Regions from separate parts of the Homo sapiens genome. Here region 2 is linked to region 1. Evidence: fine-mapped expression QTL. A gene starts in region 1. The other region holds a variant in brackets. All regions are shown on one strand. Distances are between the middles of the regions.

What was found.
Region 2: its variant is fine-mapped to the expression of PRKAG2-AS1 in skin (TwinsUK, PIP 0.95).

What each region holds. Positions count from the first base shown.
Region 1 is chr7:151,874,214-151,879,587 of GRCh38, reverse strand. PRKAG2-AS1 (PRKAG2 antisense RNA 1) reads right to left here and starts at 2,546. Exons shown (of 3, transcript NR_038926.1): 1 at 2,448-2,546; 2 at 1,722-1,751; 3 at 365-1,026. PRKAG2 (protein kinase AMP-activated non-catalytic subunit gamma 2) reads left to right here and starts at 2,473. Exons shown (of 16, transcript NM_016203.4): 1 at 2,473-3,081. The coding sequence starts at 2,968. RefSeq lists silencers at 1,979-2,408, 3,171-3,220, 3,281-3,420 and an enhancer at 3,611-3,730.
Region 2 is chr7:151,900,052-151,905,425 of GRCh38, reverse strand. It overlaps the pseudogene RNU6-604P. Among named protein-coding and RNA genes, the nearest start is that of PRKAG2, 26 kb to the right of the region's middle. RefSeq lists a silencer at 2,416-2,616. The variant A/G (reference allele first, on the strand shown) is at 3,008.

The sequences.
Region 1 (5,374 bases):
TGTGGACACCCAAACAAGTCCTGCCTATTCCGACCGTTATTGGCCTTTCCGTGCAGGATTTCTTCCTCTCGGGAATGGGGCAGGACCCCTTCTGAATAGAGGGTCTTAAGTCCCACAATCAGAAAGATGAGGGAGGATTAGAGTCCTGCCTTGGGCTGGTGAGGTGGTGAAGGAGGGCAGGGGAAGTTCAGAGGAGATTGTTTCCTGGGGTGTCTGAGGCCTAAAGCGCCCCAACATTATAACAAGAGACTGTGATGAGGGCGACGAGAGTGCTAAGCCAGGAACCCTGGACAAAACCCAGAATTTATACCTCGTCATATCACAAGGACCAAAAAAATTAAAAATTAAAAAAAGGCTCTTAAAATGCAGGCAATACAGTAAAATGTTTTAATGTAGGAAGCACTAAAGTCTTTGTTCCAACAAAATTAACTCAGAGAACAAATTATTTTACATATGTATACAGATCAATCAACAAAAGTACACATTATAACAATTGCTAAACACTGTCCATAAAGAAAACATTTCAAATGAGAAGCGCCATCGCGGTTTTCTCCTTCTGGGTCACCCAGTGGAATGAGGGCCCTCGCCAGGGGCTCTTCCCAGACGTCTCTTCACACCAACCGGCTTCCTTCTGATGGCCCCATTTTCCTTTAAAACCAGTTCTCATCAAATAGGGTGTTTTATGCACCCTGGCAAATGATCATTTTGACAAGGATTAAAACTGTAAGCTAAACAGATGACACAAATGACAATTGGGAATAATTTTTAGTGGGGACAGAGGCTAAATACTACCCCCTCCCCTTTTCTACTTCTAACCAATATCTTGAGCATTCAGTGGGACAATACAGTCTTGCTGGGTCTCTTGAAATCCTCTAGCAAGAAGCCAGCCAGGAGAAGACCCAGAAGTCCCACACCTGTGGGGCCAGGATGGCTGCTTGGTTGCTAAACCCAGACAGGGTCCTTCCAGTGCATCTGCCCCTGTCAGGCTCTGTCTCGAGACTGGGGATCTTCCAGGCTGGCTTCATTCTGGACCAGAGAGCAGAGGAGAAGGAGAAAGAATATAAACCCACCCCTATGAGCCAGGGAACCACCCAAGCTGTAAGGATTTTGTGCAAGCTGCTGGAACTCGGGTTGGAAAAGCCACCCGGCAAGCAGCTGAAAGGAAGGATGCTTCTCCCTGCGTGGGCGCACGCCTGCTTCCTAAGAGATGATCCTTTGGGTGGGCTGATCATGCCTCCTCCTCTGGGGAGGGAGTCCTGCGAAAGCACGCACCTCAAAAGGAGTAAAGGCCCTATGGTGTCCCCAAAGCGACCCCTGTCGCGTTCTTTCTGCGGGTGGCCTCCCTGCATTACTGATTACTCGGAGCGGCTGAGCTGACGTCAGCATTCTGGGAGCGCCAATGACCTTTGGGGTCATCACATCCTCAGAAACTAGAGCAGGAGGGGAAGCGACCCCCAAGCCAGCACTCCCCCTACTTTCCACCAGGGAGCCGAGGTCGCGCCATCCTGGGGCGCATCTGGGGGTGGGGGACACACCAGCCCCCTCCCCCAACCCCTCTAGGGCCCTCGGCAGCAGGCGGTACTGGATGCCCACCCGGGGCTCTAAAGGACCTGGGCCGCACCGGGAACCCTCGCCCGGGTCTTCGAGCCCTCCCCTTCTCCCAATTCTTTCCGCAGTCTCAGGAGCCCCACGTTTCCCGCGGCGTGGGGACACGCACTTACCGCGGATCCACTGCGCAAACCTTGATGAACCTGAAAAAAGCAGGGTGGGGTGGGGTGGGGTGAGGGTGGGGGTGGCTAGACCCTGCTCGCACCCAGCGCCACGCACCGCTCTCTGGGCGGGTTCGAGTGCGCGCGCCGGGCGGGGCGGGACCCGGGGGCTGCGGTGTTTCGAGAAGCACGTGCTACTTCGCGCGCAGCGCCCCCGGAGACTGTGGGCTTCCTCGCTGCCTGGTCTACGGCAGGGCGGGCGCGGGGGCGTGTTTCAAAGGGTAGGGCACACAGTGAGACGCCGGGAGGCGGGATGGATCCGAAACCAGCTCGCAGCGAGTCCCAAGCGGCTGCGGCCGCCGCAGGGGTCTGGGCGCGGCGACGAGGGCGGCGTGGGGCGACGGGGAGCGGGACGGTGGCGCTGCACGCCGCGCACTTCCTGTTCAACACGCGCCGCCTCCCACCACCCGCGCTCCCCGAGCTTGCGTCGGTGCCAGGCCCGGCCCCTCACTGTCCCCTTGCGGTCCCCTGGGGCCGCGGCGCGGCGGGGGGCGAGGAGCGGGCGCCCTGCCCTTCTTGGCCCGCTGGACTCCGGGCGCCCCCTCCGGCGCGCAGGGCCGCGAGCGCCGCCGCCAGAACTTCTGCCAGCGGCCGCCCGTAGCCTAATTGCGCAGAGGGCTCGCCTTGCACCTCCTCTTCCCCCGCCGCCCTCCCTCTCGCCCAGAAAGGAGGACGGACCCAGCTGCAGGCTCCGAGCTGGTTTATTCTGCGGCCGAGGATTACATTTATGCACGAACGGGCTTACTGGTTCCAGATTCCCCACTTGGGCACAGGCATAGGAGGCTTGTTTTCCAAATTGCTGGTTTTAATTGCACCTGCCTTTCAGATTACCTCTGGGAATCTGTGGGAGGAGCCGAGAGGGTGGAAAATGTTTCTTAGCTTTGCAAAAGGAAGAAAACTTTGTCACCCAGCGGGAGACCTCAGCCACGAGTAACCCGGGGAGACACCAGAACCGGGACGGGCTTTGACTGATTTGCCTACGAGGGTTCCGTAGGAAAGGACGCTTGAATTCGGCGCTTCGGCGGCGGCGGCGGCCGCGCGAGTTCCCTGCTCACCCTCCCTCTCCGCGGAAGTCCCCACGAGGTGGCTTCAGGGTGTAACAGAGCGCGCGGCTCCAGTCCGAAGGCAGCGGCCGGGGGAGGGAAGGAGGGGACCGAACCCCCGAGGAGTTTCGCAGAATCAACTTCTGGTTAGAGTTATGGGAAGCGCGGTTATGGACACCAAGAAGAAAAAAGATGTTTCCAGCCCCGGCGGGAGCGGCGGCAAGAAAAATGCCAGCCAGAAGAGGCGTTCGCTGCGCGTGCACATTCCGGTGAGTCCCAGCACTCGGTCCCCTGCTCCCCAGCCCTCCTGTCGCTCCCGTCCCCGGCGCCGAAGCGGTTAACGCTGGACGCCCCGCGCGCGCCGTGCGTGCCCCTCCTGTCACTTCGGGCGGCTTGGGGAAAGGGTAGAGGGACAGGGCCCGAGCTGGGCTGGCGGAGCCGGGGCTCAATCTCTCTCTCTGCCCGCGTGCAGCCAGGGCTGGGGCTCCGCCTGGGGCGGGGGCTGGGCGGCTGCAGACTAGAGGGGGCGCCGGGCGCGGCGGGTGGGCGGCTGGGCGTAGCCCGGTATCCAGCCGGGTGCGGGTGCGGGGGGCGGTGCGTTGTGTTGTTTTGCTGAAAAGGGACGGTGTGGACTGCGCTCCGGGGAGGTGGAGCCCGCGCTCGGCTGCTGGAGACGGAGAGAGGGGAGGGGAGGGAGGAGAGGGGAGGGGCGGTGGGTGGGGAAAGCAGCGGGGCGGGGGTTGGGGGGAGCTGTGTAGCTGCGTCTTCCAATGCACCCCCTCCGCTCCAGTTTCTCTCCGGGCGTTTCTGGGCCTGGAGCGGGGGTCTCCTCTGCCGCCGTTCCCTTCCCCCGCCCCGGGAGTGTACTTTGGGTCTCTGTGGTATTTGGGGGCTCGGAGCTCCCTAATCCGTGCAGGCTGCATTGAACTTCAGCCCCGTCCGCGCCAGCCGCCCGGGAGGACATTGGCGACTCGGATCTGCCTGCGGCTTCACTTTGTCCAGCCAGAGGGGCGGCGGGCCGCGTAGTGGTTCTCTTTTCGGAAGGCGCCCCGGTAGCCCGCGGCCACTGTTCCTCGCCTCCACGTAGCGGGGTAGGGCGGTGGGAGGTGTGGCCCACTGGGTCACACCCTCCGCCTCAGCCAACCAAGTAAATGTTTGTGTACACACACACACACACACACACACACACACACACACACACACACACACACACCAGAGTGCTCCGTAGAGAAAGTTATTTTGCTCTCCCGGGGCAGGGTGGGAGTGCGCAGTGAATGGGCTGTCCGGACCCCTCATTAAAGCTAATCCTTCCCGACAGGGTCAGGCGCAGCTGGCATGGCCGAGGCAGGCCACTCACTTCCCACTGTGAATCCCAGGGCGCACTGCCCCGTGTTTGCTGAGCCACCCTTCTTTTAGACGCCCCGCTAAGGTCCTCCTGTGTAAACTCCGGCCCACACGTGCCTAACGCTTGGGTGAAGAGGGTGGAGTCCAGGGGCGGGTCTCCAGACACCTGATGCCAAGTAGCCCCACAGGGGCCCTGGGCCAGCCCTCCCTGGCTGGAAAGCTCTGGGGCTGGAAACTTGGACCCCTGGCTGCTGTGTGGCCCCCACGGTGGTGACTCGATTATGCAGGAATAAGTGTTCTATTTGAAAATGAAACATTCTTGTTTACATCTCTCATGTAAGACATTTAAAACCATGTTCGTGAGTTAAAAGTTAGATGTTGCTGCCACAAACCTCTTAAACAGTGATCACTTGAGCTAACCGTGTAACTACTGTTTCTCCCATTTGTCAAATGCAGGAAATAATACCCATTTTTCCTGCTTTATACGGATATTGAAATAAAGTAATTCATGGGAAAACTCTTTTTTATTGTTTTTTTTGTTTTGAGTCAGGGTGTCACTCTGCTCCCCAGGTGGGAATGCAGTGGTGCAATCATGGCTCACTGCAGCCTCAACCTCCCCAGGCTCAAGTGATCCTCCCACCTCAGCCTCCTGAGTAACTGGGACTACAGGCATGTGCCACCACACCCATCTAATTTATTTATTTTTTTTGTAGACATGAGGTTTTACCATGTTGCCCAAAGCTGGTCCACATGAGCTGGGCTCGAGTGACCCGCCCACCTTGACCTCTCAAAGTGCTGGGATTACAGGCGTGAGCCATCACACCCATCCCGGGAAAACTCTTGACAAGTGTAAAGTGTCCTATAAATGTATGGCTTATACATATACATATACATATACATATACATCATATACATATACATATACATCATATACATATACATCATATACATATACATCATATACATATACATATACATCATATACATATACATATACATCATATACATATACATATACATCATATACATATACATATACATCATATACATATACATCATATACATATACATATACATCATATACATATACATATACATCATATACATATACATCATATACATATACATATACATCATATACATATACATATATATCATATACATATACATATACATCATATACATATACATATACATCATATACATATACATCATATA
Region 2 (5,374 bases), 26 kb before region 1:
GTGGATTCTCTCTTCTTATGCCTTTAATTGCTCCAAGTCGTTCTGCATTTAAGTTTGCTTCTCAGTAGATCACCGGTTTCTTATAGATTTTTATTCTCCTGGAGTTCCAATTGACTTTTTGTGTGTGTGTGTTTGACAAAATAATACTTTGCACCTGATCACTACGTCATTTGGCTTTGTAATCATCTGTCATCTGCCTACCCAATGCATTCATCTTGAAGTACTCTGAGTTTCTGCTCTAACTGGCATCATCGAAGCAATATTTTTTTTATTTGTTTTTGTTTTTGTTTTGAGACGGAGTCTCGCTCTGTTGCCCAGTCTGGAGTGCAGTGGTGTGATCTCAGTTCACTGCAACCTCCGCCTCCTGGGTTCAAGCAATTCTTGTGCCTCAGCCTCCCAAGTAGCTGGGATTACAGGTGTGCACCACCATGCCAGGCTAGTTTTTGTGTTTTTAGTAGAGACAGGGTTTCACCATATTGGCCAGGATGGTCTCGAACTCCTGACCTCAGGTGATCTGCCCACCTCGGCCTCCCAAAGTGCTGGGATTACAGGCGTGAGCCACTGCACCTGGCTAATAATATTTTTAACTTCTAAGAACTTCTCTCTGATTGCTACTTTTTACAACTTCTTGTTTTATGGACTAACACCTTGAATCTCTCCCATAATACCAGTTAGAAATAAAAAGTCTTTTATTTCCTAATGATCATGGTTTTCTCATGGGTTCGATGTTTTATTGGTTCATATTGATTCATGCCTTCTTCTATGCCGTTGGTTTTTCTCAAGTACCTGGTAAACCTTGTTGTCTGTTTATATTTTTAAAAACTAGGCTGATTGACAGCAATGGCTGGCACGGGTCTCCTCTGCTGATTGACAGCAATGGCTGACACGGGTCTCCTCTGCTGATTGACAGCAATGGCTGGCGCGGGTCTCCTCTGCAGTCTGGGCTTGCTTTCCCACTTGCCATCTCTCTAGAGGGAGCCCCTTACATGGGTGGTGTGTGCCAAATGGCAGGATTCCCACAGGGCCCCGGGTCAGGGTGGCAGGCTGCCCCTGCCCCCAGCAGCCATCGGTGACCCAACCCTATCCTTTCAGCACTCCCCTCTGCACACCCAAGGCTGCTGGCTTAGGTCAGTGTCCTAGTTTCCCATGGCTGTCATAACATCTAGGGGTGGGTGACTTTGTCCCATGCCTTTCTTTTAGTTTCTGGTGTTGCCAGCAGTCCTTGGCTATGAGTGCACATGGCTCAGATCTCTGCCTCCATCATTATACGGCCTCTCTCAGTGTGTCTTTGTCTATGTCTCATCTCTTCTTGTAAAGACATCAATCCCAGTGGGTGAAGACCCACCCTAATGGAGTCTGGCATCATCTTACCTTAAATGCAACTCCAAAGACCCTATTTCTAAATTAGGACACATCCCCAGGTCTTGGGGGTTAGGACTTCCACATGTCTTTCTGGGGGACACAATTCAACCCACAGCAGCCGGGTTCCTGGAGGTGGATCCTGAGACAGCGTGCACATGCAGCTGGCTCACTCAGGAAAAACCTCCAAGGGAGCGAGGGGAGCAGGAGGGGCGGGTGCTGCCTCAGGCAACATCTAATCTGGACCAGATCCTGGGAGGGAGGGTGGTCTGCAGAGCTGTCCAGCCTCAAGCTGAGGCCTGGGCTTGTGTATCCCTGTGTCCACCAGTCCTGCCCTAGGTGGAGGAGTATAATTTCCTCAGCAGGGTGGCTCTTGTAGGCTGAGCACACGTCTCTGGAGAAGATCTCAGGCGTACGGCCATTGGCCACACACTCCAAGCAGCACAAGTGAGGAAAAGGGCAGTCTCCTCTCTGGAACTCCTATCACAGTGCTCATTCTACCCCCCCGTCTCTAAGCTCTGTTTTCTATTTGATCTCTTTTTATTTTTCTAGTCATTCTAAGTTCTTCAGCTGATAATCCCATATGTATGTGTTGGAGGGTGTGTGTGTGTGTGAGTGTGTGTGTGTGTGTGAGTGTGTGGGTGTGTGTGGGGTGAGAGTGAGTGTGAACCACCGTGCCTGGCCAATATTTAAACATTTTAAGACTTTATATGATAAGATGCATTTCAGAAACATTATACTAATTGGCACTCCCACCAGCAGAGTATAAGAGTATTTAAATGACTGCACAATTTTTTAGTTATCCTGTTATTTTTTCTTAAACTGATGCAAATCTGTTTTGGAAACCAGATAACATAATATAAGTGTATGTATATAAACATACACAGACCTATACATCTATTTGTATATATACATATGTGTATACACACATATACAGATAAAAATCTTTCTCCAAATAATCTTAATGATCTGGGCACCAATATGAATGCAAAAGGCCTTTATTGCCTCTTCTACAGAATAGTGATAAGGAAACTAATTACAAAGGACAGAAGAGTGAAGTCTGGATACCGTTCTCATCACGTAATCCACGTGAACATCAGAAACGGGACATATCACCGTTGTGCCCCGCCCGTTAGGATGCAATGACAAAAACCACAGCATCAAACAGACTCTTCTACTGTCCCCATAAACTACTGAGGTTTCCTAGAAAGTCAAATGTCTCAGCCTCGAATCTACCATCAAACAGTTCAGTAAGAAAAAAAGTGTTATTTGCATAGTACTTGCAACTTTTCTATAAGCTTGACATTGTTTCAAAATAAAACGAAAAATATAGGGTCAGAGGCACAGTGGGGGAGGAAGGGAGGGCGTCGTCACCCCTGAACGTCGTCAAAGGCCCTGCTCTTGGTTCCAGGCTGTGCTGTCGTCTTCAACTGTTATTAATTTTCAAAGGGGCGCTGTGGGTTCATTTTGCAGGGGCCCCACGGATTATGTGACCAGTGCCGGTAGCGGCTCCCCTGTTGCTAACCTCTGGCTTTCCTTTGCTTGGCGCACATTTCTTTGTTGTGTACGTGTGGGTGAGCATTTCTGAATCCTGACGCTGGGACCTCTCCCTTCCAGATCTGCATGAGTCTGCCATGCTGGAGGACGG[A/G]AGACGGCTGCTCTCTCAGATTCTTCTCCAAGCTCAACAAGGCCTCGTGGTTGGCCTCGGGAATAAGCAGAGCTTAGATTGGCCCATGTGCGAAATATTTGGCCAGGGGTAGTCCTGCCACTGGCTCCACGGATCTATCTTGGTTCAAGATGCTCCCTTGATGAATATGCAGATTATGTAAATTCTTCTCTTTTTTTCAGCAGCTTAACCACTAGGTTGGAACGACGGCCAAGTTCAGTTTTTCCTCTGTTCATCAGTCAGTTCTTCTACCTCAATGCATGACATTTCTTTAGTGTTCAAGCCCTTCTTCTTTGTTCGGCTGAAGGAAGAATAACCATAATGGTGGTTAGGAGCAGGGGTTAAATCCAGTTCTGCCACCCACAAACTACGTGGGTTGAGCAAGTTACTTAACTTTTCTGTACCTCAGTGTTGTCATCTGTAAAATGGGTTTAATGATAACACCAGCCCTTCCCCAGCTTTAAATCTTTCTCTGACTCCCCGCTACCCACCTGACAAAACCCAGATCCTTGATGAGGAGTGACAGGACCTCCCTCCCACCCTCTTGGGGCATCCAGAGCCCCTCCTGTCTCCTTCTGTGCTAGACGCTTTCTCACACTTGGCCTCATTTATTTCTGGCCACGGATTTGCAAGGGGGCATTATCTTCTCTATTTTACAGGTGAGGAACTGGAGCTTCGGTGGCTGACAAACTTGCCCCACATGTCACTGGCCGGTGGGAGAGCTGAAGTCAACCCAGGACCTCAATGTCCTTCCTCTTCAGCACGTGCCCTGCCGTCCCCATGTGCTCCAGCCCAAGCCAGATTTTCTGCGATTTCCAGAACATTCTGTTCTCTTTCATTCCTCAGTTTGTCTATCTACTGCTCTCCTCCCCAGTGCCTTCAGAAAGGGATGAGTACATACATTTGGCAAAAGTGGGGTGGGTGTGGGCACGAGGGAACAGACAGTAGACAGGAGGGTGGGAGCCCTGGAGTAATAGACGCAGTATTTTGGAGAGGGTTTTTGAGCAGGGTGGGAATGTGTCCCCGAGCCCTCCCTTTCCTGAAGGTGGAGTTCTGGCTTTCTACATGGGATTCCGAGAACGAAGCTTGTGGTTTCAGCATTTCAGACTGAGGTTGAAAAGTGCACAGAGCGCGTCTGCCTCTGATGGAGTTAAAAGCAGCTTCGTCTGGAGTGCAGCGGTCGTCATGGCGATGCATAATTACCAGGGTTTCACTGGAATTGGGAGTCACTGCCCAATCATTGACGATTGATCCGCACACTTTTCCTTTCTTCCCCTGCAAGAGATTTCCCTGGAAGGCAGGCATAGCCACGAGAAGGCACTTCAGGCCTACGTGATTCCTAGCGCTCAATGTGAATCACTTTCTTTTCTTGACTGGGGCCAAGGGAAGATATTTTGTTGCCACAGGCAGCTTATGACAGGGACCTAATGATTTGCGGTATTCCCTGGATGTCCCTGGAGCTCCATTTCAAACCCCAGTGCACCAGGAGTCCTGTTTCACCTGCCAATTTCCTGAACCCACCTTGCACTTGGCTTCTCCAGGACTTGCCCCTTCCTCTCCCTGAGAGTAGAGCCCTGAAGAAGCAGTGCCTAAGATTTCACAAGTCTCACCCTAGCAGTTATCCCAACCGTTATTATGATTTCACTGAACCTCACCCGTCCTTCAAGGCTCAGCTCAAGCTTCCTTGGTGAAGCACTCTCAGTGGGGAATGCACGCCTTCTGGCTTCCTCCACAATGCCCCACAGCTCTTGGCCTGTGTCACATTCATTCATTCATTCATTCATTCACTCACTCAACATCGATTGACCACCTACTAAGTGCCAGGCAACTGTACTGGGTTCTGGAGCCTGGACAAAACAGACAAACGTCTCTGTCCTCATGGGGCTTAAAACCTTGTGTGGAGCAGACAGTAGTCATGGTATATAGGTAAGGTAGGTAGTGCATTAGAAGGTGACACGTGCCAAGGAGAAAAATAAGCAAAGGCGAGGTAGGAAGTGTCAGGAAAGGGGGTTTCCATTATTTATGCATCTATTTTTTGAACACCACGAATCTGTGTGTCATCCTTGCACAGAAGCTGTGCTCATCTTCTCCGTATTGTTCCAATTGTAGTGTATGTGCGGCCACACAGAGTACTGGGATTTCCATTTTAAAGTGGGGTCCAGGAAGGATTCACAGAGAAGAGACCTGTGAGTGGAGAACTACAGGGAAGGAGAAGGTGAGTCATCTGAGTGTCTAGATATAAGGACGCTCCAGGCAGAGAGGCCAGCCAGCACAAAGTCCCCAAGGCAGGAGGGAGCCTGGCATGTTGAAGCGACAGCTTCTGGAGTGGAGGGAAGGAGGGGATGAGTT